3 separate regions of the Homo sapiens genome follow, and all the other regions are linked to region 2. Evidence: fine-mapped expression QTL. A gene starts in region 2. Each other region holds a variant in brackets. All regions are shown on one strand. Distances are between the middles of the regions. Region 1 overlaps TADA3 (transcriptional adaptor 3). Region 2 holds the start of GHRLOS (ghrelin opposite strand/antisense RNA). Region 3 overlaps TATDN2 (TatD DNase domain containing 2).

Region 1 (8,010 bases), 500 kb before region 2:
GCATCTGGCCCCAACTGCTCCACTGCCACACTACAGCCAGAGAAGGACTCACCTTAGGCAGAGGTCGACACTGTGGAGGGCAGTGTGGTGACCCCTAAGAAACCTGGACCCTTGGGGGAGGGGGGAGGGAAAGCATTAGGAGATATACCTAATGTAAATGACGAGTTAATGGGTGCAGCACACCAACATGGCACATGTATACATATGTAACAAACCTGCACGTTGTACACATGTACCCTAGAACTTAAATTAAAAAAAAAAGAAACCTGGACCCTTGATGACCCTGAAGAATTGCTAGATTGGCTAACCGTGAAGGCCACTCTGTCCCAGGACTGCCCATCCTGCAGCCAACACATTTCCTTACTGTGAATCCACTTTGAGCTGGGGGGGCATTGTTACGTGCAGCCACAAGTATCCTCAGAAAGAGGTACTCAGAAAGTTCTCCCTGACTGAATGCCATGGGTTAGTGGCCATGGGCTGAGAGCCACCAAGCATACCCCCCACAAACCTTACCACCCACACTGGTTCCTTCCTCCCCACTGTAACAGACATTCAAAGACTGGATGCTTTTTTTGAAAAACCACAGCAGTCACTTTATTCTTAAGTTTGCACTTTACAAAACCACAAGGGAGAAGTCCTTGAAGGGGAGACAGGGGTAGGGGATTAGGGAGTGGGGGATGGTAAAGAGGGGAAGAGGAAGACCCAGAAACGAAGTCCCCTCCAACCCCATCTCGGGGACCAAGCAGAGACTAGGCCTCAGGCTAGCCCAGCAGGGCTTCCTGTGTCCTGGTTGTACAGAGCTAGGCCAAAAGACCTCAGGGGAAGGGCCACGGCCCTCTAGAGACTGCCGCCATTTGAGGGACAGCCACAGGCCAATGTTTCCTGTGCCCAAAGAAGGAAGTGGGCCTCCCTTCCCCTCCCCTAGGCCAGATAATCAGCCTGAGGCAGGGGTGAGGGCTACCCATCCAGCAGCTTCAGGATGCTCTCACGCTCCTTCAGAGTCTTCCAGGCCTGGTCCTTTTCTTTCTTGGTGGGAGTCCGCTTCTTCTGCCGGGCAGCCATGATCTTGCGAAAGGCGTCCATGACCTCGTTGTCAGCCATGCGCACCCGCTGCCTCAGCTCCTGCCGGCTCACCTCCTCCTTTGCCAGCCTGTGGGGACCAGCCAGCCAGGTGCCAGGGTCAGCCCACCTCCAGAGAACAACCCCTCCCTCTTCAAGACCGAGCCTACCCACCAGCCCAGGCTGGCATGCCTGTGGATTGTGTCATACAGTCGTGACCAAAAAGCAGTTACTGACCTACACTTACATGGCACTATCTTAAGCTCCTGAAAAATATTAACTCATGTTGATCACGGGGGAGGCTGTGCACATGTGGGGACAGGGAGATACGGGAATTCTCTGTACCTTTCTCTCAATTTTGTTGTGAACTTAAAACTGCTCTAGAAGAATAAAGTCTTGGCTGCACATGGGGGTTCACATCTGCAGTCCCAGCACTTTGGGAGCCCAAGGCAGAAGGATCACTTGAGCCCAGGAGTTCGAGACCAGTCTGAGCAACATAGTGAGACTGTCTCTACAAAAAATTTAAAAAATTAGCTGGGTGTGGTAGTGCACACCTGTAGTCCCAACTCCAAGGGAGCTGAGGATTGCTTGAGGCCAGGAGTTCAAGGTTACAGTGAACTATGATCATGCCACTACACTCCAGTCTGGGCAACAGAGCGTGACTGTGTCTTCAAAAAAAAAAAGGTCTTAAAAATATACACAGTAGGCTGGGCAAAGTAGCTCATGCCTGTAATCCCAGCGCTTTGGGAGATGGAGGCAGGAAGATCACTTGAAGCCAGGAGTTGAGACCAACCTCGGCAACAGAGTAAGACCCTGTCTCTAAAATATATATATATATACATACACACACACAAACACACACACACAGGCACACCCACTCTCTCTCTCTGTCTTTCAGTTAATCCTAACAACCCTGCAAAATATGTACTATTATTCATATGTTACCCGTGAGGAAAATGAGGCTCAAAGATGATCCCAGGATCCCACAGTTAGTGAGGGGGAGATCTGGAGCAGGCTGGGGCCAAACTCTTGTTTTTAAACACTGTTGTTTCAGGTGTTCCGGTGCCAGCAGAAGGCCTGCTTACGTCGGCATCTGCATTCCAGAGCCCCCTAAGGTCTAGGCAGCCTGAGGCTGACAGGAGGTGGGTGAGACACCAGATCAATCTCTCTGAACAGGGTCTGATTTATACATTTCATCGATGGTGGAGCTGGAAGGTCACTTAGTGATTGAGTCCAGCCTGCCAGTTTTCCAGAAGGGGAAGGAGATGCTCAGGTCAGGGGCTGCTTAAGGCCTTGCAGCTGCTCTGCAGCAGGGTAAGGGCTGTGCTCTGGTTTCCTGAGAGCTGCAAGCCATTTCTTCATTGCCCATTACTTCTTTTTTTTTTTTTTTTTTTTTTTTTGAGACAGGTCTCACTCTGTCACCCAGGCTGGAGTACAGTGGCCTGATCAAGCTCACTGCAGCCTCTACCTCCCAGGATCAAGCAATCCTCCCACATCAGCCTCCTGAGTAGGACTATAGGCATGTGCCACCATGCCTAGCTGATTTTTAAAAATTTTTAGTAGAGAAGGGGGTCTGACTACATTGCCCAGGCTAGTTTCGAACTCCTGAGCTCAAACAAGCCTCCCACCTCAGTCTCCCAAAGTGCTGGGATTACAGGCATGAGCCACCAGGCCCAGCTAGGGCCCACTACTTCTGTAACTGCACATGCCTGCTTTTCTCTCTCTTCCTCTCTCTCCCTCTGCTTCCCTCAGTGCCTCTTCCATCTGTGTTTTCTTCTTCTCACCTTTCAGAGAAAACAAACTATTATAGAAAGAGGCTTTGATTCAACCACAGGTTCAAGTCTCAGCTTGCTGTTTATTGACTGTGTGACCTTCAGCAGAGCATTTCGCTTCACTGGGCCTTTATTTCCTCATCTGGTAAACAACGAAAATAGCTCCTCCCTCCTGGGTTGTTGTCAAGACACTTGAGAGAGTGTACATAAAGCCCCTGACACACAGTAGGCCCTCAGCATACATTAGTCACTCTTATCCTTAAATACCCTGGCAGCTTGTCAGCAACTACCTCTCCTTTTAATGGCACTTATCTTTACTGATCATCTGCTAGTAATCTGCAAGTCCCTTGCTCTGCCTCTCTTGCTGGCCCCCAGCACAATATCTAAGAGACAGTAAGAATGGCCAAATGATTAGCCTGGCATGGTAGTGCATGCCTGTAATCCCAACTACTCAGGAGGCTGAGGCAGGAGAACTGCCTGAACCCGGGAGGCGGAGGTTGCAGTGAGCCGAGATCATGGCACTGCACTCCAGCCTGGGCAACAGAGTGAGACACCGTCT[C/CA]AAAAAAAAAAAAAAAAGGCCAAATGAATGAATGTGCCCTGTCCTGTCAGGGCTCTATGAAGTTAAGACACAGCACTTGTCTGTGAGAAGCAAAGAGACTTGTTCGGGTTGCTTCCCTATCTCTTTACCTAAAGGGTAGCTATTCCACAGTCTTCCTCAAGATGTCACCTATACCCTCGTGATCAATGCAGAACAAGATGGATGGGAGTTGACATCAAATGAATGGCAGGCACTGTGATGGATTCCCAAAAGAACATGTCCTAAAACACTGGTCAATTTCTTGTGATGAGCAAATAAAAATCACAGATCTCCAACAAAATGTTAACAGTTAATTAGTCTAGGTGGAGAATATACTGATGTTTATTGTATGATTCTTTCAGATTTTCTGTGTGTATCAAATTTTTAATAACAAAACTTTGGGGATAAAAAGAAAAGAAGCATGAAAAGACAAAAAATAAATCACACAACAATGTGAATATGGGTAACACTACTAAACTGTACACTTAAAAATGGTTAAGAAGCGTAAATTTTTTTTCTTTTTTTTTTTGAGATGCAGTTTCACTCTTGTTGCCCAGGCTGGAATGCAATGGTGCAGTCTCAGCTCACTGCAACCTCCGCCTCCCAGGTTCAACTGATTCTCCTGCCTCAGCCTCCCATGGAGATACATTTTATATTATGCCTTTACCATAATTAAAAAACCAAACTAGGCCAGGCGCAGTGGCTCACGCCTGTAATCCCGGCACTTTGGGAGGCCGAGGCGGGTGGATCACGAGGTCAGGAGATCGAGACCATCCTGGCTAACACGGTGAAACCCCGTCTCTACTAAAAATACAAAAAAATTAGCTGGGCGTGGTGGTGGGTGCCTGTAGTATCAGCTACTCAGGAGGCTGAGGCAGGAGAATGGCATGAACCTGGGAGGCGGAGCTTGCAGTGAGCCGAGATCATGCCACTGCACTCCAGCCTGGGTGACAGTGCGAGACTCCCTCTCAAAAAAAAACAAAACAAAAACAAATCAAATCAATCGGTCAGTCACAGATGCCTGAGCCCCACTCTGTGGAATCAGAATTTGTTTGGGACATACCCGGTGGACTGGCCACTGCTGTTTTTTTCGAGGCTCTCCAGGTGATTTAGAGGCCAGCCAGGATTGGAAAGCCTGTTGTAAAACCCCTGAAAGGTGACTAGCCGTGGCCACAGCCTCCAAGGCCACCCCCGGGACTGTGCATCCTGCTAACGCTCACCTCAGCAGGTCGTGCTTCTTGGTGCGGTTGTGGGCACTAAGTGCCTTCAGCTCAGCCTGCCGTTTGCGAAGCTCAGCAAGGACCTCATCCTCGGAGTCCTCTGCGGGGCGGTCCTCAGACTCCAAAAGGCCCTGGGCAATTAGCTCCTCCTTGATGCGGCTCTCCAGGGACTTAGTATGCGGCACACTGCAGCGGGAGGCAGGCCCGTCAGACTCAAGAGCCAGCTTGGAGAAGGGCCCACCTTGGAGGTTCCCAGGGCTTCCCAAGGTCAGTGAAAACCTGCCTTTCCCTTTGGGCACCCCCTCTGTATCTATCCAGATACAAAGGGAGGGACAGACACATCTGGTCTGGTTTTTAAAACAAGCAACGTATGTATCTACTATTCAAAAAATATGGAAAAACCCATAATGCCAACAACCCAGAGAGAATTACTATTATTTTGTTATATATTATTATATATATTCCAGATTTTGTTATATATTATTCCTAATCTTTTGCTACATATTAGTCCAGGTTTTTTCCCTTATGTGCACATATTTAAATATATTGTAAGTAAGCCAGGCATGGTGGCTCACACCTGTAATCCCAGCACTTTGGAAGGCCGAGGTGGGAGGATCACCTGAGGTCAGGAGTTCAAGACCAGCCCGGCCAAGATGGTGAAACCCCGTCTCTACTAAAAATACAAAAATGAGCCATACATGGTGGCAGGCGCCTGTAATCACAGCTACTTGGTGGCTGAGGCAGGAGAATCGCTTGAACCTGGGAGGCGGAGGTTGCAGTGAGCCAAGATTGCGCCATTGCGCTCCAACCTAAACGACAAGAGCGAGACTCCATCTCAAAAAAAAAAAAAGAAAAAGAAAAAAAGAAATATATTTTAAGTAAAAATAGTATTATACCATCCATACTGGGCTACAACTAATATTTTCTCCACTTGTCACTCTATAATTTACATCTTTTCATGTCATTTAACTATATTTCTCTATACTTGCAGCTATATGATTAATAGCCCCAAGTTATTTCATCATATGGAGTTATGCCAATTTAGCCAACCATTCCCCTTCAGCAGGACATTTGGGTTATTTATGGTATGAACAGTTCTGTGCTGAACAACCCTGCACTCAGTCTGTGCATGCAGACACGCTGGGTCATCACTCACACTTGAGACTGCTATTAGGCTTCACCTAACTGCCCCCAGCCTCTTACTGATGAGGACTTCCCCAGGTTGAGATGGAGAGAAGCCAACAGAAGCGGGGGCCAGACTGTGGGTTGTGGATAGGACACCACTCACCTGAAGGGCTTGTTCTGATTGCGAGGGGAGGTGCTTGCCCCGTCAGCCCCTGATTCTTTCCCAGACATGTCAGGAATAGGAGAATCCTCCATAGGGGAAATAATATTTTCCTAGAAGACCACAAAAATGAGTGGAAGGAAAAATAGCTGTTCCACTTTCCTGCTCCTTTCTGACCTACACTGACAGTCTTCAAACACCAGAAATATCCTTTTATCTTTCCCATCCCACCTACCGTGGGAAGCCTTCCCATACCAATCCCAAATTGCTTTGATCATTCTAGAAATCCCTTTTATTTTCGTACTGATGTGAAGAAAAAGGAACACAGAAGAGAAATGATTAACACTCAATGATGGTAATGAACAGCTAAGGTTTGTGAAGCGTCTGCAACGCACCAGGCAGTGTGCTAGGCCTGCTGTGGCGGAGATGCTAGCTGTCCGAATGCCATACTCTTCTTTCCTCCACGGCAGCTAGGCAATGCCTGTCCAGTTGTACTTCCCAGGCTCTCTTGCAGGCGGGTATGGTCATGTGACAAGTTCTCTCCAGGGGAAAGTGATCAGAAGAGATAAGAGCCATAGCTAGGCATGGGCCAAAAAGTTTCCTTCACACACTCCTCCTTGTTTTGTTTTGTTTTTTTTTTTTGAGATGGAGTCTCACTTTGTCACCCAGGCTGTGGAGTGCAGTGGCACAATTTCGGCTTACTGCAAGCTCCGCCTCCTGGGTTCATGCCATTCTCCTGCCTCAGCCTCCCAAGTAGTTGGGACTACAGGCGCCTGCCACTATGCCCGGCTAATTTTTTTGTATTTTTAGTAGAGACGGGGTTTCATCATGTTAGCCAGGATGGTCTCGATCTCCTGACCTTGTGATCCGCCCGCCTCAGCCTCCCAAAGTGCTGGGATTACAGGCGTGAGCCACCGCGCCCGGCCTCCTTGCTCTTATTCTGTGGGACTGGAGTGACAATTACGCCCAGAGTGACCTTGTGCAGACTGCAAGGCCACCGTCAGCTGGGGTCCCTGTCTGATGATATGAGATAGAGACCTGCCCCTTCCCCTACCTTAGATAACCTGCAACATGTACCCAGACTGTTCCATGAGATAAACTCTTGTGTTTGAGCCAGAATAGAAAACTGAGTCTCAATGAGGTGAAAGAGTGTGAGGGTGTGTCTAAGGTCAACCAGCAGGTATAAAGACAGGGCCCCTGAAGCTAGGGTTTGAATCCTGGTGTGTGAGACCTCAAGTGAACAGTTCCCTTTTCTGAGCCTCAATCTTCTTATCTGTAACACAGCGTTAACCACTGTCCTGGCCTCCAGTGGGAGGATGTGTATAAAGCCCCTCCAACAGATGCTTAGCAAAAGTAATTGTGGAGTAAGGCTACCTTTGGGGAAAGTTGGAGAAAAACAGGGGCATGAGAGGGGCTTCTAGGATATAGTAATGTTTCATTTTGTAATCTCCAGGCTGGTAATACAAGCTCATTTGTGAAAACTGTACATTTATGATCTGTGCACTTTTCTATTAGGTGCACAAGTTATATATTATTCCCAATCTTTTGCTATATATTAGTCCAGGTTTTTACTTTTGCACCAACCTATTTTTGCACCAACCTAATAAATGTATGATAAATTCCGATAAAAAATAAGCATAACACATTAAAACACAAAGTAAATATGGTTCCTCTTTTGGGTTAGGCTGCTCACCTCCACCAGGGCCTGCAGGAGGCGCTGCGTCAGGGCACCAAAGGGGCATCCATCTTCCGGCTGTTCATGCTGGGCCTCAGACTTCTTCAGCAGGGCATCCACATCTAAGCGGGCACAGGAAAGGAGGGGAGGTGGGCTGAAGTTCTGGAATTCAAGTCCTGACCTGGGGTTGGCAGGGAGGTGAGAGGCCTACCTTTAGTGTCCAGTTCGGTCAGTGGCCCCATGAGGCCTTTCTTCTTGTCAGCCACAGCCGCTGCCCGGGCCCCATCCTTCTGCTCCTCCAGCAGGTCCTCCTGGGCCCAGCGCTGGGAGTAGTGCTTCCCCAGGGGTGGGATCTGTGGAAAAGATGGCACCCAACCCTGAGTGGGTAAGCACTGGCCAGCCATGCTTCATTCATTCATTCA
Region 2 (8,011 bases):
ATCCACCTGTAGTTCGACTCCCCAGTATTTTGTTAGATTTCCTTTCAGTTCATTTGACTACTTGGGCATAGTTTTTATATGCTGTCGTTGTCATCATAGGGGCCACAGTTGTTGATTTTGCTCCTCTTCAGTGTTAGAAGCATTTCCTATCCCAGTGTGTTCTCTGTGGTGGTCATCTCAGGGGACTGCAGAGCACTCTGTGGTGTGCGTGGTATCTCTGAGTGATCTCTGATCACTCACCAAGTGCCATCTCGGGGCTTCCTGTGTTGGAGCCAGCCCTTGTCTGTGTTTACTGTGGAGTCCTTCCCTAGGATGCAGTCTTTCCATTTCTGGGAATCATTGAAAAGGGGTGATGGGTGTGGGGGGAGCTGGGGGCTGCTGCAGAGGGGACTGTGAGCAGCCCTGATGTGGAGTTCTGTCTCCAGGCATTGCTTCACCGGCAGCTACCCGGTCATTGAGCCCCTGCTGAAGTACTTTCCCAACATGTCTGTGGGCTTCACGGCAGTGCTGACATACTCCTCTGCCTGGGAGGCCCGGGAAGCCTTGAGGCAGATCCCACTGGAGAGAATCATCGTGGAAACGGATGCTCCCTATTTCCTCCCTCGCCAGGTAAGGGGGTCTTCAGGCTGAGTGGAGGCACCGGAGGGAGAGGGTGGGGAGGTGGGTGGTCACCCTTACAAGGTTGGCAGGGCCAGAGCCCCAGTGACTTCCAGGTCCCATCCTGGGCTGTGTAGATGCCTCCTTGCTGTTACTCTGCAGAACCAAAAGTCTAGGGGGCTGAGAAGCTGAAGGGTAACCACTCTCTTCCAGGCAGTGCAAAGCCCTACCCTGTAGAGGGTAGTCCAAGGAAGCGTGGGACCCTGCTCACCCAGAGCCCCCATGACTAGGACTCTCCCTGCACCTGCAGGTAAAGGGGTCTCTACAGGGCAGCCCCAAAGAGGTCCTTGCTGGGGAAGGGACAGGGAGGGAGTTCTAGATTATGACTGTGCACACATGGCACAATGATGTTATGACCACTTGATGTCTTCCAGGTTCCCAAAAGCCTTTGCCAGTATGCCCACCCGGGCCTGGCCTTGCATACGGTCCGAGAGATTGCCAGAGTCAAAGATCAGCCACTCTCCCTCACCTTGGCTGCCTTGCGTGAGAACACCAGTCGCCTCTACAGTCTTTAAGCAGAGAAGGTACAGTCCTCGGGAGTCTCCTAGAAAAGGTCGTAAAACTCACATTCTGTATTTTTTAAAAACCAGGACAAGTCTTTTGTTGCATTTTGTTAATGTAAAGAATATAAACATAGTATGAGCATTAAGCCTGATTTGTTTTGAGTGACATGGTTTGGAACCTTCTTCTTTTTCTCTTCCACCCTCCAGGGCGACCAGCAGCCTGACAGAACACAGGCTGGCTTGAAGTCTGTGTCTCAGGTCGAGGATGTGTTTAGAGAGCTGATTGGAACACAGAAAACCAGGACAGGATGTTTTCCTCCAAGCGGGTCATAAGGCTTCAGCTTCTGGGTGGTGGGTGGGGTGGGGTGGGCATGGAATGAGGGGTATGGGGACTGCCTGTAATAGCACTGGGATTTTGCCTCCCAGCCAAAATGCTCCAGGGTAGGCAGCAAAGAAGAAAGAGTGCGATATGAGGGTACAGTGAGTTTGGCAGTCCAAATTCTGTTCTCTGCAGCCTGTTTTTGAGTAGTTGGTGAATAAAGTCACCCGCCTACTTGTCTAAGCACATGTGGGTGTGTAACTCAGTTCCTGGTTCTCGGTTCTAAAAACAGACTTCCAACTGGGAAACTTTTTGGGGGAAATTAACTGGACACCTATCTCGGAGGTTTATTTTCTTGCAACCAGTGAAGTCGTCCTCCTCCCTTCCCTGGATAACTCTTCAGTTTGACTGTCACTGTTCTGGTGTCAACTCCAGCGTCGGCACAGGCAGAAGGACTTCAGCTGCTGGTCTCATTGGTTCCACTGCCATTGATATGGGGGGGTGCAGAGGAGCACTCATTGTCCATGATGGAGATCCAGGACAGACTGGGGGACTCCGGGAAGAGGCTTTCTTGGGGAAGAGGACCCCAAAGGAGGTACTTCCTCCTCACTGATGCCCTCAGGGCTGCTGTGTGGGTGTGTTAAGCTGATAAGGTTCAGTTTGCGGCGGAAACTACCTGCTAGTCTTGTGTCAGGGGCTGCCAGCCTCCTTTTGTTTCACTTTTGCCCCCTTCTTGGGAACATTTGACCAAAAATAATCCTCATTTCATCTTGTGTACAGTCCTTTGTGTACCCCGCCCAGGTTGAGAGGTGAATCAGCGTAATTCTCCGAAGCTCTGCTGGGCAGCTCAGCCATGTTACATTGTCTATGCAGAATAAGCAGGCCTGGTGTCTGCAAATGTACCAGTCCTTCTCCCGCATCTCCTGGGTGCCCCCTTGGCTTTGCCTCTCCTGTGTCCTGTCTTTCTGCGTTTTAGAAGTGAGAGCCTCTCCTTCACCTTTTGAGCAACTGAGTCATCTCAAGTCCTGAGCTCTGCTCTGCCGCCTGCTGGTGCCTTGTAAAGGTATACTCGTTACAGGCCCTAGAGGTTCTAATGGTCCAGGGTTAAGTGAGAGGAGACTGTACTTTGTTTCAAAGGATCCTTCACCCTGATCTGCAGTGAGGTGGATAGATCACCTGGAGTCCCTCGTCTGTGGTCTTGGAGGCTTAAATTGTAAAATACATCCCTTATGGAATCCTAAATTCCTCTAGGTGTTTTTGGAAGGCGCATTTGAGCCTTGTGAGCTAAAATGGAATGGATTTAATATTTCCTATCTGGCATTTCCATCTTGCCCCTGGTACACAAGTCACTGGCCTGGAACTCAGCCTTGATTCACTGTCCGTCTTCACGGATTAGCTGTGCTGTTATGTTGTCTGTGCTGCAGATTGGCCCATGTGGGAAGTCGGGGGGGACCTGATTTCCTGCTTGGAAGACTTGGGGGACTGCCGAGCATATCAAAGTGTTTATAGTCACCAAGTGAACTGCAGCACAACCATCTCCTCTCCAGCAAGCCCTGAAGTCAGTAGTGCCTGCAGGTGAAACCAACCAGCCCTGTGTTAGAGGAGGAAAAGCGGAGATGACATGGAAGTCTCCAAGCCTGTGCCATCCACCTGCCAAGGAAAAGCACAAGGTGCTATCTACTTTTCTCTCTAGGATTTAGATTATCATTTATGTGCTGTTGCACAGTGAAACCTCACCTGTGTGGGCGTGAAAGCTGATTGGCATTGTTTTTGATTCAGCTTTTTGGATGGCTAATTGTTTTCACTGTGCTGTGGGAATGCCTCTGTATTTTTTCCCCTCTTTGGCCATCTTTTTCTGAAAATAAAGTGATGGATCCTCTAGCCAACCCAGTCTCTCCGTGTTTGTATAGACTTACCTGAGTGATGCAGTGGTTTAGTCTGGTTGTTGGCCAGCATTGTAACCCAAGAATCCAGGTAGCTGGAGACTTTTTTTCTTTCTTTTTTTTTTTTTTTTGAGAAGGAGTCTTGCTCTTTTGCCCAGGCCAGACTGCAGTGGCACTATCTCGGCTCACTGCAAGCTCCGCCTCCTGGGTTCACGCCATTCTCATGCCTCAGCCTCCCAAGTAGCTGGGATTACAGGTGCCTGCCACCGTGCCCGGCTAATTTTTTGTATTTTTAGTAGAGACGGGGTTTCACCGTGTTAACCAAGATGGTCTCGATCTCCTGACCTCGTGATCCACCTGCCTCGGCCTCCCAAAGTGCTAGGATTACAGGCGTGAGCCACCGCGCCCGGCCAGCTGGAGACTTTCTTGAGTATCTATGTGGCTCTCTGTAAAATTAAACTGCATATAAGAATTCTTAAAGTTCGGCCGGGCATGGTGGCTCACTTCTGTAATCCCAGCACTTTGGGAGGCCAGGGCGGACAGATCACTTGAGGTTAGGAGTTCGAGACCAAGCTGGCCAACATGGTGAAACCCTATTTCTACTAAAAATACAAAAACTAGCTGGGTGGGGTGGCACGCGCCTGTAGTCCCAGCTATTCGGGAGGCTTAAGCTGAAGAATCACTTGAACCCGGGAGGTGGAGGTTGCAGTGAGCCAAGATCGCAGCACTGTACCCCAGCCTGGGTGACAGAGCGAGACTCTGTCTTTCCCCTCCCCCCGCCTCCCCCCAGAAAAGAATTCTTAAAGTTCTACAGCCTTAGAGTGTTAAGTAATTTTACTGTCTGGGAACTCAGATGCACTGCTTCTTTCTGACCTATGTAGGTACTTTCTTTTCTTTTTTTTTTGTTTTTTTTTTGTTTCCAGCTCAAGGCTGTAGGAGGAAGAAAAATCTAGTCCCTGGGGGTACTGATGAATCAGTTGGATGGTGGGCGTTGGACTGTGAATTCCTGATGCCTCTGGGTAAACTCTGGAGGAAATTCTGTTTCATTACTTGCACTCAGCCCTCCTATTTTGTACTAAGGTATTCTTGAATACAAGTGCACCGGCCAAAAAAGTAAACTTACGCATAAAAAGAAAGGCTCTCTTCCTTCCAAGAATGCTGAACACCTTTGAAGTCTCTGTTGCTGCCTCATCTTTTAGATACAATCATTGATTATGTATTTTTGGCATCGTCCTGAACTTTGTTTCATTTCCTTCACAGTTGAATGTGCAGTTGGCTTTGTCCACTCAGTGATGGTCCTTGTGACTGTTCTTGGCTTTTCTGTTGTTTTTCCATCTTTCTATAGGAAGCTTGAGACCGATACTCATCGTTTGCTTTCAGCACCTTAATTTTGCTTTGTTCATTTTTGTAAAGTAAGGGCAAATGGCCACCGGAATGTACAGTGATTAAAGAAGCAAACTCTGTCAAAGATGGTGATTAGTGGCCAGCCAGTCCCTCTCAGGATCACTGTATTAAAAAGTGCTCATTTGCCAGTGACATTTTTTTTTGGTTTTGGTTTTTTTTTTTTTTTTTTTTTTTGAGACTGAGTGTCACTCTGTCGCCCAGGCTGGAATGCAGTGGCCTGATCTCAGCTCACTGCAACCTCCACCTCCCAGGTTCAAGTGATTCTCGTGCCTCAGCCTTCTGAGTAGCTGGGACTACAGGCGCCCAATACCATGACTGGCTAATTTTTTTTTTTTTAAATTTTAAGTAGAGATGAGATTTTGCCATGTTGGCCTGTTTGGCCTTATACTCCTCATCTCAGGTGATCCACCTGCCTCGGCCCCCCAAATGCCAGTGACATTTGTAGGTGGATTCAGATTAAGGTGGGTAGCTTAGTTGAGGCGTCTCAACCCTTTTCTGTGCACTCTCTCAAGATGATTTCTGAACACACAACTATAAGTGCATGAGAACTTAAATACGTGTGCTCTTATGCTAATTATACACAAAGTAAAAGTTTTTTCACAAGGAGAATTTTTTTCTCCAGCAAATAGCTCGCTCACCCTAGGGGTACATACACCCCACTTTAGAGACCCTCAAGTTACAGTGGTATCATTAAACGATCCATAAAGGAGTGGGTTTAAGAAAGCTGATACAGGAACATGTTTGAAATAATACATTTTCTCAAGGGTGTCCTCCAACCATTTTCTTTGATAAATTATATTTCTGCCCATTGTTGACTTGAAATTGTCCTCACCCCTCTACCAAGTTCACCCAGTGTATTCTGAAGGAAAATGAATGAATATGGAAACCTCTCTCATCCTAGGCAGTAGAGCGAGGGAAGCTGCACTGGCTGAGAGGCTGTGGAACCGGATGAAAAAGCAGCCCCTGAGTCCTGTGGCGTTGGCTGTGAGTCGGCCACGTGCTTGCTGTGTGCTTTAGGAAAGTTACTTAATTTCTCTGAGCTTTAGTTTTCTCCCTCATAAGTAGGCTTGCTGTGAAAATGAAGTGAAATCACATTAATCTGCATGAGCATTTAACACGGTGCCTGGTGTACATCAGGGGTGTGACAGTGAGTGCTGGCTGCTGTAGTAATTGAATGCTTAGCTACGTGCCGGGCCCTTTGCCAGCTACAGCTCATGTGAGACCTCATGTTCAGTCTTGGCAGTAACCCAGCAAGGTAGGCATTTTACATGTGAGGAGCCTGAGAAATTCAGTCTTGGCCTGGATCACAGAGCTGGTATCCAAATTCAGGTCCGAGGCCAAAGCCCAGATCTTTGCACTACACCTTGTTGCCTGGCACAGGTGAGAGTGCCCAGCCCATAGTGGGTGCGCAATATCTGTTTCTATTTGAATGACCCAGGCAGGCGGTTAATAATGCTTGTGATTTCTTTGAGAGAGAAGTAAGTTCTTGTCTTTGGTGGGGGAAGCATCAGGTGACCAGCATTTGTCCAGAGCCTGGTACCCATCCTCTCCCAAGCCCAATCAGTGGTGCTTTCTCAAAAAGAAACCATCTCCTGACCACTTTGGCCATATTGGGCCTTTGCTCCTCTTCTGTAGCTATTGATAAGAGGGCTGTGGGCAGTTAGTGATAATCAAGGTCGTATCCCAACTAAGTGACAGAGCTGAGACAGTTAAGTTCCAGGACAAGTGTGTTGATCTCTGTACCCACTTGTGCCAGGTGCCTGGGGAGGTAGGGGCATGGCTGTCTGAGGGTGGAGGGGTGAGTAGGGGGCCTGCAGTGTGCTGTGACGCCTGGGAAGGGGATTCTAAGCCATTTCCCATCAGCCGTTTACTAAGTAGCCTGGGGATCTTGTTAAAATGCAGATCCTGATAGATTAGGGCTGGGGTGCTGCCCAAGATTCTACATTTCTAAGAGTCCCTGGATGACGGTGGCATTCACAGACCACAGCTTCTATGTGAGGGAGAGCAGTTGGGTTTCTGTCTGCCTGCCGCACCTGATCAGTAGTTAGTGCCTGCATGTGTGGCGGCCAGAATTTTACTTGGGGAGACGCTCGGCTCCTAGCACCCTCTGTGGTAGGGGTTTTCCAGAGTGTGGGCATTACCCCAACTGTCTCTGCAGACGGCTTCCTGCATGTTTCCCACAAGCGCTCAGATGGCTGAATTGGCAAGTCTGTGGTGCTGCTCTTTGGGGCCACCTCGTTCTTTGCCTTTCCCTCCCCTTAGCGATGTGTCCCATCCGTTGCCTACAGTCAAGTCAGTCCACATGTTTAGGCTAAGGTGGGCATGACCGAGTGGCCTTCCCCCGGGAAGACCAGTGTCGTAACTGGAATTAAGTTGTGGAACATAAGAGTCAAGGCTCGTGTCTGCTGTGAACTGGAGTTGAGGGAATGTTTGGGGATCCCACCTGGTATCAGTAAGGGAACCATGGCGACGGCCAGCCTTGCCCATGTGAGGCATTTGCTTTGTCAGGCCTTCTCAGTAGTGGAGAAGGGAGGAAGGAGAATGCAGCTCTTTCAGTGCTGTCTAGCAGTGCCCAAGAGCCGTGATTGGGCACCTCACTTAACGTCTAACTTCAGATTCACTCTTGGGCATTCCTGTCTTCCTCTCCAATCTTGAATGGATGTTGGCTTCGATAATGTCATCCTGAAGTTTCTTTGTCCACACAGCCCTGGCTGGTTGTTAATAAGCTGTTAATGCAGCCTTGCACTCAGGAAGCCCTGATGTTTAAAGGAACTGTGTCTTTGTTCTTCCTCTCTTCCCTCTTTCTCTTAGTCCCACTTTATCTCTTCTTTCTCTTCCTCTCCCTCCTCCTTTTCCCCTCTCCCTCCTACTCTCCCCCTTTCTCTCCTCCTTCTCTAAGAAACCCAGTCTTAATTCCACACAATGCATGCACATGCAGTAGCTTCTCTGCTTGAGTGAGCTGGTGTGATTAGGTTTTCTAAACATGCACATTGGCCTTGCTACTTGTCCTTTTATTCCCTTCCCACAGACCATAAACCAAGAATTATTTTTATTTGTATTATTTTGATTTTTTTAAAGTAAAATATTAACTTTTCCTCTTTGAAATAAATTCCCATTTGGAACATCAGCATACAGTTTGAACATTTATTCGCCTCCTGAGCTTGTACAACAGTCGTGGGAGTTGCTGCAGAAGCAAGCGAAAAGCCAGATGAGCGCTTCTAAACTTAGAGAGAGGTGAGTAAGGC
Region 3 (8,011 bases), 20 kb before region 2:
ATCTTGGCTCACTGCAAGCTCCGCCTCCCGGGTTCACGCCATTCTCCTGCCTCACCCTCCCGAGTAGCTGGGACTACAGGCGCCCGCCACCACGCACGGCTAATTTTTTGTATTTTTAGTAGAGACGGGGTTTCACTGTGTTAGCCAGGATGGTCTCGATGGGCCCGCCTCGGCCTCCCAAAGTGCTGGGATTACAGACATTAGCCACCGCGCCCAGCTAGGTTTATGATTGTTTTAAGTTTTATTTTCCTTTGGCCCTTGATTCAGGATAATGATTAAAAAAAAATATGATGTGCTCTTCGGAAAAAAATTTCAAATGATACAAGAAGCTTATAATATAAGCACCTAAGCCTTTGTTTGTTTGTTTGTTTGAGACAGAGTCTCATTCTCTCACCCAGGCTGGAGTGCAGTGGCATGATCTCGGCTTACTGCATCCTCCGCCTCCTGGGTTCAAGTGATTCTCCTGCCTCAGCCTCTTGAGTAGCTGGGACTATAGGCATGTGCCACCACGCCTGGCTAATTTTTGTAATTTTATTTTTATTTTGCTTCTTTTTTTTTTTTTTGAGACAGAGTTTTGCTCTTGTTGCCTGGGCTGGAGGGCAGTGGCACGATCTTGCCTCACTGCAACCTCTGCCTTCCGATTCAAGCGATTCTTTGCCTCAGCCTCCTGAGTAAGTGGGATTACAGGTGCCCGCCACCATGCCTGGCTTAAGTTTTGTATTTTCAGTAGACACAGTGTTTTGCCATGTTGGCCAGGCTGGTCTCGAACTCCTGATGTCAGGTGATCCACTTGCCTCGGCCTCCCAAAGTGCTGGGATTACAGGTGTGAGGCACTGCTCCCAGCCGAGCCTAAGTCTCTTTCTACTTCCCTGCATTCCCCAAAGAGATCCATTATAAACAGTTTAGCTTTTTAGACTTGTTTGCGAATATATACATATAAAGCAATTTTGCCTTTTTTTTTTTGAGATAGGGTCTCACTGTATTGCCTAGGCTGGAGTGCAGTGGTGCCGTCACGGCTCACTGAAACCTCTGCCTCCCAGGTTCAAGCGATTCTTGTGCCTTAGCCTCCCGTGTAGCTGGGATCACAGGCGTGTGCCACCATGGCCCAGCTAATTTTTGTAATTTTTAGTAGAGACAGAGTTTTGACACCTTGCCCAAGCTGGTCTTGAACTCCTGAGCCTAAGTGATCTTCCTGTCTTGGCCTCCCAAAGTGTTGGGATTACAGGCATGAGCCACCGCGCCCCGTGTGTTTTATAGAGATGGGGTTTCGCCATGTTGGCCAGGCTTGTCTCGACCTCCTGGGTTCAAGCAGTCCACCTGCCTCGGCTTCCCAAAGTGCTGGATTACAGGCATGAGCCACTGTACCTGGTCTGTATTTACTTTTGAGAGGAATTTAATAGAAATGACTTAGGAATGCAAATGGGATAATGGTTTACTGCTTATGGAATGGCCTTAGGAGGACATTTGTGGAGAGTTCTTACACCCGGCAGGGATTAGACTGGATTAGAATTTCACATCAAAATAGTCTGGCAAACAAAGTCTAGCTTTTTCTGTGTGGAGTCCTGGAGTGAGTGGGTGCAAGAGGGGGCTGAGGCTTCACTTCCGTCTTGGAGGAGGTTTGTTGTTGGGAGCAGTCTATCTTGACTGACCCTGGTGCAGTCACTGAGAAACTGAGGTATTTTCCAAAACCAAGTTGATTATTTGAGGGGAAGTGTTTGCAGAGAACTTTCAGGAGGCTTTGGGTATGGTGGGAAAAACACTGCACTCAGAACTGGGGGATTGGAGTTCCTGGGGCTAGCCCTTCCCCTCACTGGGTCCTCAGGTTTCCTTTACCCTTAGATATGGGATTGGGCTAGCTGGTTTCTAGGGCCCTTTCCAGTGGGAAGAGCTTGAGCTGCTGTTTTGCCTGAAGTGTAGTCCTTGCCTTCCAGGAGCTTGCAGTCTGGTTTAATGAGAGTGTTCATTTCAGCTCCTTCCGTCCCCTTGCAGTGAAAGGATATCATCTGCTGAGCATGAGAAGGCGAATGCTAAGAAATGGCAGCAATCAGCCCCTCTTACAGTGCCACTTCACCACCCGGAGAGAACCTTTGCCTTAGCCACAGTCACTTTCCCTTTGACTGGTAGAACCACCACTGATTTATAATTTGCCAAATGCTTCATGTACGAAAGTGCCCTTGGAACAGCCCTTTCAATTCTGTTTTTTTTTTCCCAGGTTGATTCCAAAGATAGTTCTCATAACTCCACAAACTCTGAATTTGCAGCTGAAGCTGAGGGTCAGAATGATACAATTGAGGAACCCAACAAGGTCCAGAAAAGGAAGAGGGATAGACTTCGAGACCAGGGCTCCACAATGATCTACCTGAAGGCTATCCAGGGCATCCTGGGGAAATCGATGCCAAAAAGGAAGGGAGAGGCTGCCACTCGGGCAAAACCAAGCGCAGCAGAGCATCCCAGCCATGGAGAAGGACCAGCCAGGAGTGAAGGACCAGCCAAGACTGCAGAAGGAGCAGCCAGGAGTGTCACAGTCACTGCTGCTCAGAAGGAGAAAGACGCAACCCCAGAGGTCAGCATGGAGGAGGATAAGACAGTGCCAGAGAGGAGCAGCTTCTATGACAGGAGAGTAGTTATAGACCCTCAAGAGAAACCCAGTGAGGAGCCCCTTGGGGACCGAAGGACTGTCATTGACAAATGCTCTCCACCCCTAGAGTTCTTGGATGACTCTGACTCTCATTTAGAAATCCAAAAGGTGAGTAAAGCTTGTACCAGGCATCTGACTTTTTAGTTCTGTTGATGAAATGTGTTCCATCTTTCTAGTTTGATCCTAAGTGTTACTAATTAAAAATAGTACTTTACTTAACCAGGCCTCCAGGGAACAAACTGATGGTTTTCTTCTAACATACTTTTCAGATTTTCAGAGTTATTAATAAACCTAAACTAAGTGCTTTTTTTTTTTTTTGAAGGATTTATATGTTAGGATATGGGTTTAGCTGCTGTGTAAAAGGCCAAAATCACAGTGGCTTAAACAGAATATAAGTTTGGCTTAAGAAGGATGGCTCCATCATGTCAGAGATACTGGTACCTTTTGTCTTGATTCTCTATCACCCCTCAACACAGTGTCCATCTCTTGGTGTGAAATGGATACTCTGATAGGACTCAGGGTTTGTTATCTGGGCATTCTGGCCAGTGGGAAGGGGAGAAGAGGAGAGTGCATTCCTTCCCT[G/T]TTAAGAGCTTGGCTCAAGAGTTGCACATGTTGTATCTGCTGTTGACAAGAGCGGGGAAACCCGGCTGACACCTGGCTGCAAGGGAGTCTGGAAAATCAGCCTTTATCTAGGCAGACTTGTACCTGGATAACCAGAGAAGAAGGGAAGGATGTCATTGGACGGAAACTAGTGATTTTTAACATAGCTTATAATTGAGGGGAAGCATTCCTCCATCTTTTTCTTTTTTTTTTTTTTTTTGTTGTTGGGACAGAGTCTTGCTCTGTTGCCCAGGCTGGAGTGCGATGGTGCAATCTTGGCTCACTGCAACCTCCACCTCCTGGGTTCAAGCAATTCTCCTGCCTCAGCCTCCTGAGTAGCTGGGATTACAGGTGTGCGCCACCAAACCGGCTAATTTTTGTATTTTTAGTAGATATGGGATTTCTCCATGTTGGCCAGGCTGGTCTCGAACTCCTGACCTCGTGATCCACCTGCCTTGGCCTCCCAAAGTGCCGGGATTACAGGCATGAGCCACTGTGCCAGGCCACATTCCTCCATCTTACTCGTCTCCACCCATCCTTTACTACTGCTCTGCAGGCAGCTTCTCTCATCTTTAGCTCTTTCTTCTAGTACTTACCCCATGTTTCTAAATAATCTTTACTGTTGATCAGTTTTTCAGTTTTAGATGTCTGAGGACTTCTTGCTTGGGCGATGAGAATTTAGTTCTCTATACCTCCTTCAGAAGCACCCACACCCAGGGACACATTAGCTTCCCCTTTCTGCAGCCTCCCTGTGTGGCTTGAATACCTTTTGGGTTAAGTCTGTGTAAGATTTGTTACTGCCATGTTCACAGCTGAGTCGCCTTGTATACTCTGATCACATTTTCTTTCTTGTAAAACTTCATTTTCCTTAAAGTTCATCATTACTTTGTTTTTCCTTTGGTTTTCCTGGTACCTTTCACTAATTAATCCCCAAACTGCGAGAGCTGTAAAATCCTTCTCAATACTGTCAAAATAAGGAATCTGTTTCTTTTTTTTCTCTCTTGGAGGTATACGTCCTCAGCCCTCTGTTGTCCTGCTCTGGTCTGGACTGCCTGCCGTCAGGCCAGCTGGCAGCTGTCTCTCTGGAGCCTCCTTCACATTTCTCCCGGATTGAGTCTTCTGCTACCTATACTCTGTGTCTTCTCATGTTCTTCTTCCTTGGTTTACTCTCACATTTTGGTGGAATACTTTTTCTAGTAGCTTCTTGAGAAAGGGTACATGGAGAAACTTTTTTTGGTAAACATGTGTCTGAGATTGCCTTTATTTTACCTTTAACCTTGATTACAAGCTTGGTTGGTTTTGGAATTCCAGGTTGGAAATTGTTTTGTTTGGGATTTTGAAGGCATTGCTCCTTTTCTTCTGGGCTTTTTTTTTTTTTTTTTTTTTTTTGAGGTGGAGTCTCGTTCTGTCTTGCCCAGGCTGGAGTGCACTGGTGTGATCTTGGCTCACTGCAGCCTCCACTTCCTGGGTTCAAGTGATTCTCCTGTCTCAGCCTCCCGAGTAGCTGGGATTACAGGCACACGCCACCACACCTGGCTAATTTTGTATTTTTGGTAGAGACAGAGTTTCATCATGTTGGCCAGGCTGGTCTCAAACTTCTGACCTGAGGTGATCCACCTGCCTAGGCTTCCCAAAGTACTGAGATTACAGGTGTAAGCCACTTCGCCTGGCCTCTTCTGGTTTTCTTGATGTCTGAAGCTATGCTGGTTCCTGAACCTTGGTATATGATTTTTTATTTTTTATTTTCTTTTGCTTTGAGACAGAGTTTTGCTCTGTCACCCAGGTTGGAGTCCAGTGGCGTGATCTCAGCTCACTGCAATCTTCACCTCCCAGGTTCAAGCGATTCTCCTGCCTCAGCCTTGTGAGTAGCTGGGATTACAGGCATGTGCCACCACACCCGGCTAATTTTTGTATTTTTAGTAGAGATGGGGTTTCACCATTTTGGTGAGGCTGGTGTCGAACTCCTGACCTCATGATCCGCCCGGCTCAGCCTCCCAAAGTGCTGGGATTACAGGTGTGAGCCACCGTGCCCAACCTGTATTTTTTTTTTTTTTCCCTCTGTGGAATCTTGTAGAATATATTTTGATCTCAGGGCTCTGAAATTTCATGGTGGTGGTGTCTACTTTGCTTAGCATGGGACATTCCCTTTCAATCTAGAAACCCTTGTACTTTAGCTGTGGGAAAAGTTCGTGAATTACTGTACTTCGCTGATGTTTTCTTTCCGTATTTTTCTTCTCTCTTTCTCTCTCTAGCTTCTCTACCTTCTTTCTCTTATTTGGATGTTGGATTTTTCAGGACTGGTCCTGTAATTTTATTGCCTTTCTCCCTTGTTTCTAGCCAATTTCTTGCTTTACTTTGTAGGATATTTCCTTTTCTTTATCTTCCAACCCAGCTGTTTATTTAGTTTTACTTTTCTACTGTCATGCTTTTTATTATCCAAGAGCTCTTTTGTTTTTTAATAACATCTCTGTTCTTGTTTCATCTTCTGTTATCTCTTTTAGGGAGTTCATGGTAGTTTTTTGGCTTGGTTTTAGTTTTCTTTAAGTTGCTTCTTTCCGTTTCTTTTGATCTCTTCTGTGTTAGAGGCTGCCTTCACATGTCTGGTAATCTTTGGTTGTCTGTTTATGATCAAGAATGGGAGGATTAAAAAGCTGTTTGGAAGCTCTGAGCGTAAAGACTTTGAGCTTTGCTTTGGGATGATCGGGAGAATATAACCCTCTTCCCCTTGCCATGTCACTGCTTTTAGGAAAGCCTCGAGACTGGTCACCTTGCCCAGAGGAGTGTTTTTCAGCCTGCTTAGGAGGAAAGGTGGCTGGGAGCTGGGTAGCGAAAGGGGCGGCTGCGGGGGCGGCGTCAGCATTCACTTAATCTTTGTCTTTTTGGTGCAGTACCAGTGCCCTCCACTGAGCTGACCAGGCCTTATTCTAGAGATCCTCTTGTTTTACTGTCTTCAAACAACTCACCTTCTCTGAGTATGAGGAGGGAATCTGGGATCTAACTCATTGGAAACCAGATTTCACCCTGTCCTCCTCCTTTTAATGTTCTTCTGTAACTCCAGTTCCTCCAGTTCCCAAGGTGCCCAGTACCGCGAGTGCCTGCTCTGTTCTAAGCTTTCCTGGTGCCTAGCTTAGGTCTCAGCCTTCTCTTGGTCTGCCAGTGAGGTGTTATTTGGCCATCTGCTTTCTAGCCTCCAGTGCGTGATCACTGTAGTCTCTTGTTCTTCCTGTTCTGGTGTTTTTGTTATTGTAGAGGGGTTTTATTTGTTTTTTGTTTGGTTTTTAGATTCTTTAGTTTTAGTGAGGTTTCAGGAAAGAGTAAAATAAGTCGAATTTGTTCAGTACATCCTTAGCCTAGAAAAGTTCTGGGAAAATTTCTTGATTATTTGATTTCTTGTCTGTTTCTTCTTTTTCTGGACCATCTATTTTATGCTTGGTCTTTCGGATGGAAATTCCAATTTTCTTTTCTTCCCAGTGAATCCTTTTTAAAAAATTTTTCTGGATGGTTTCTTCAACTTTATCTTCTTTTTTTTTTTTTGAGATAGAGTCTCACTCTGCCACCCAGGCTGGAGTGCAATGGCTTGGTCTTGGTTCACTGCAACCCCTGCCTCCCAGGTTCAAGCGATTCTCCCGCCTCAGACCCCTGAATTGCTGGGACTATAGGCGCATGCCACCATGCCTGTCTAATTTTTGTATTTTTAGAAGGGACGGGGTTTCATTTTGGCCAGGCTGGTCTCGAACTCCTGACCTCAGGTGATCTATCCGCCTCGGCCTCCCAAAGTGCTGGGATTACAGGCGTGAGCCACCGCGCCTGGCTCAAGTTTATCTTCTAACGTTTATGTTGATTTTTTTTTTTTGGTCTTTTTTTTTTTTTTCCTGTGCGTGGTTTTTTTTTTTTTTTATTGCTGCCAATTTTTTTTTCTTTTTTGTCTTTTTGAGACAGAGTCTCACTCTGTGGCCCAGGCTGAAATACAGTGGTGTGATCTCAGCTCACTGCCACCTCTGCCTCCTGGGTTCAAGCAATTCTCCTGTTTCAGCCTCCTGAGCAGCTGGGATTACAGGCATGGACCACCATGCCTGGCTAATTTTTGTATGTTTAGCAGAGACAGGATTTCACCATGCTGGTCAGGCTGGTCTTGAACTCCTGACCTCAGGTGATCCACCTGCCTCGGCCTCCCAAAGTGCTAGGATTACAGGCATGAGCTACCACGCCCGGCCAGAACTTTAAAAATTAAAAATTTTAGCTGGGCGTGGGGCTCATGCCTGTAATCCCAGCACTTTGGGAGGCTGAGGCAGGTGGATCATGAAGTCAGGAGATCGAGACCATCCTGGCTAACACGGTGAAACCCCGTCTCTACTAAAAATCCAAAAAAATTAGCCAGGTATGGTGGCGTGCACCTGTAGTCCCAGGTGCTGGGGAGGCTGAGGCAGGATAATGGCGTGAACCTGAGAGGTGGAGCTTGCAGTGAGCTGAGATTGCACCACTGCACTCCAGCCTGGGCAACAGAGCAAGACTCCGTCTCAAAAAAAAAAAAAAAAAAAAAAAAGTTTTTGTCATCCAGGTTGGAGTGCAGTGGCATGGTCATAGCTCATTGCACCTTTATTTTTCTGTGGTCCCCTTGGTTTAACTTTTCCAAGCATCAACTTTTGTCCTTTGCTGGGTGGGGAAAGGGCAGGCCATCTGCACAGGGTGGGAGCAGGGGTCTGGAGATCTTGACAGACTTCAGCTAATTCCTATTTTCATCTGCGGCTTCACCCTCACTTTGGAAGTCTGGCA

The links. PIP is the estimated chance that this variant, and not a neighbour inherited with it, causes the effect. A credible set is the group of variants that fine-mapping cannot tell apart.
Region 1: its variant is the best candidate, but not a certain one, in a credible set for the expression of GHRLOS in memory regulatory T cells (Schmiedel 2018, PIP 0.84).
Region 3: its variant is the best candidate, but not a certain one, in a credible set for the expression of GHRLOS in prefrontal cortex (GTEx, PIP 0.73).

The regions. Positions count from the first base shown.
Region 1 is chr3:9,779,400-9,787,409 of GRCh38, forward strand. TADA3 (transcriptional adaptor 3) reads right to left here. Exons shown (of 9, transcript NM_006354.5): 5 at 7,800-7,941; 6 at 7,607-7,710; 7 at 5,917-6,026; 8 at 4,629-4,814; 9 at 568-1,150. The coding sequence ends at 958. It also overlaps a transcript of OGG1 not described here. Among named protein-coding and RNA genes, the nearest start is that of TADA3, 9.1 kb to the right of the region's middle. RefSeq lists a silencer at 3,514-3,563. The variant C/CA (reference allele first, on the strand shown) is at 3,391.
Region 2 is chr3:10,277,854-10,285,864 of GRCh38, forward strand. GHRLOS (ghrelin opposite strand/antisense RNA) reads left to right here and starts at 3,099. Exons shown (of 6, transcript NR_073568.1): 1 at 3,099-3,149; 2 at 5,668-5,750; 3 at 7,895-8,000. It overlaps TATDN2 (TatD DNase domain containing 2), which reads left to right. Exons shown (of 8, transcript NM_014760.4): 6 at 426-609; 7 at 1,032-1,210; 8 at 1,368-3,365. The coding sequence ends at 1,172. It overlaps GHRL (ghrelin and obestatin prepropeptide), which reads right to left. Exons shown (of 6, transcript NM_016362.5): 6 at 7,813-8,011. MIR12127 (microRNA 12127) reads left to right here and starts at 2,498; the gene lies at 2,498-2,599. It also overlaps LINC00852.
Region 3 is chr3:10,257,925-10,265,935 of GRCh38, forward strand. It overlaps TATDN2 (TatD DNase domain containing 2), which reads left to right. Exons shown (of 8, transcript NM_014760.4): 3 at 2,213-2,746. Among named protein-coding and RNA genes, the nearest start is that of TATDN2, 13 kb to the left of the region's middle. RefSeq lists a silencer at 6,011-6,200. The variant G/T (reference allele first, on the strand shown) is at 3,221.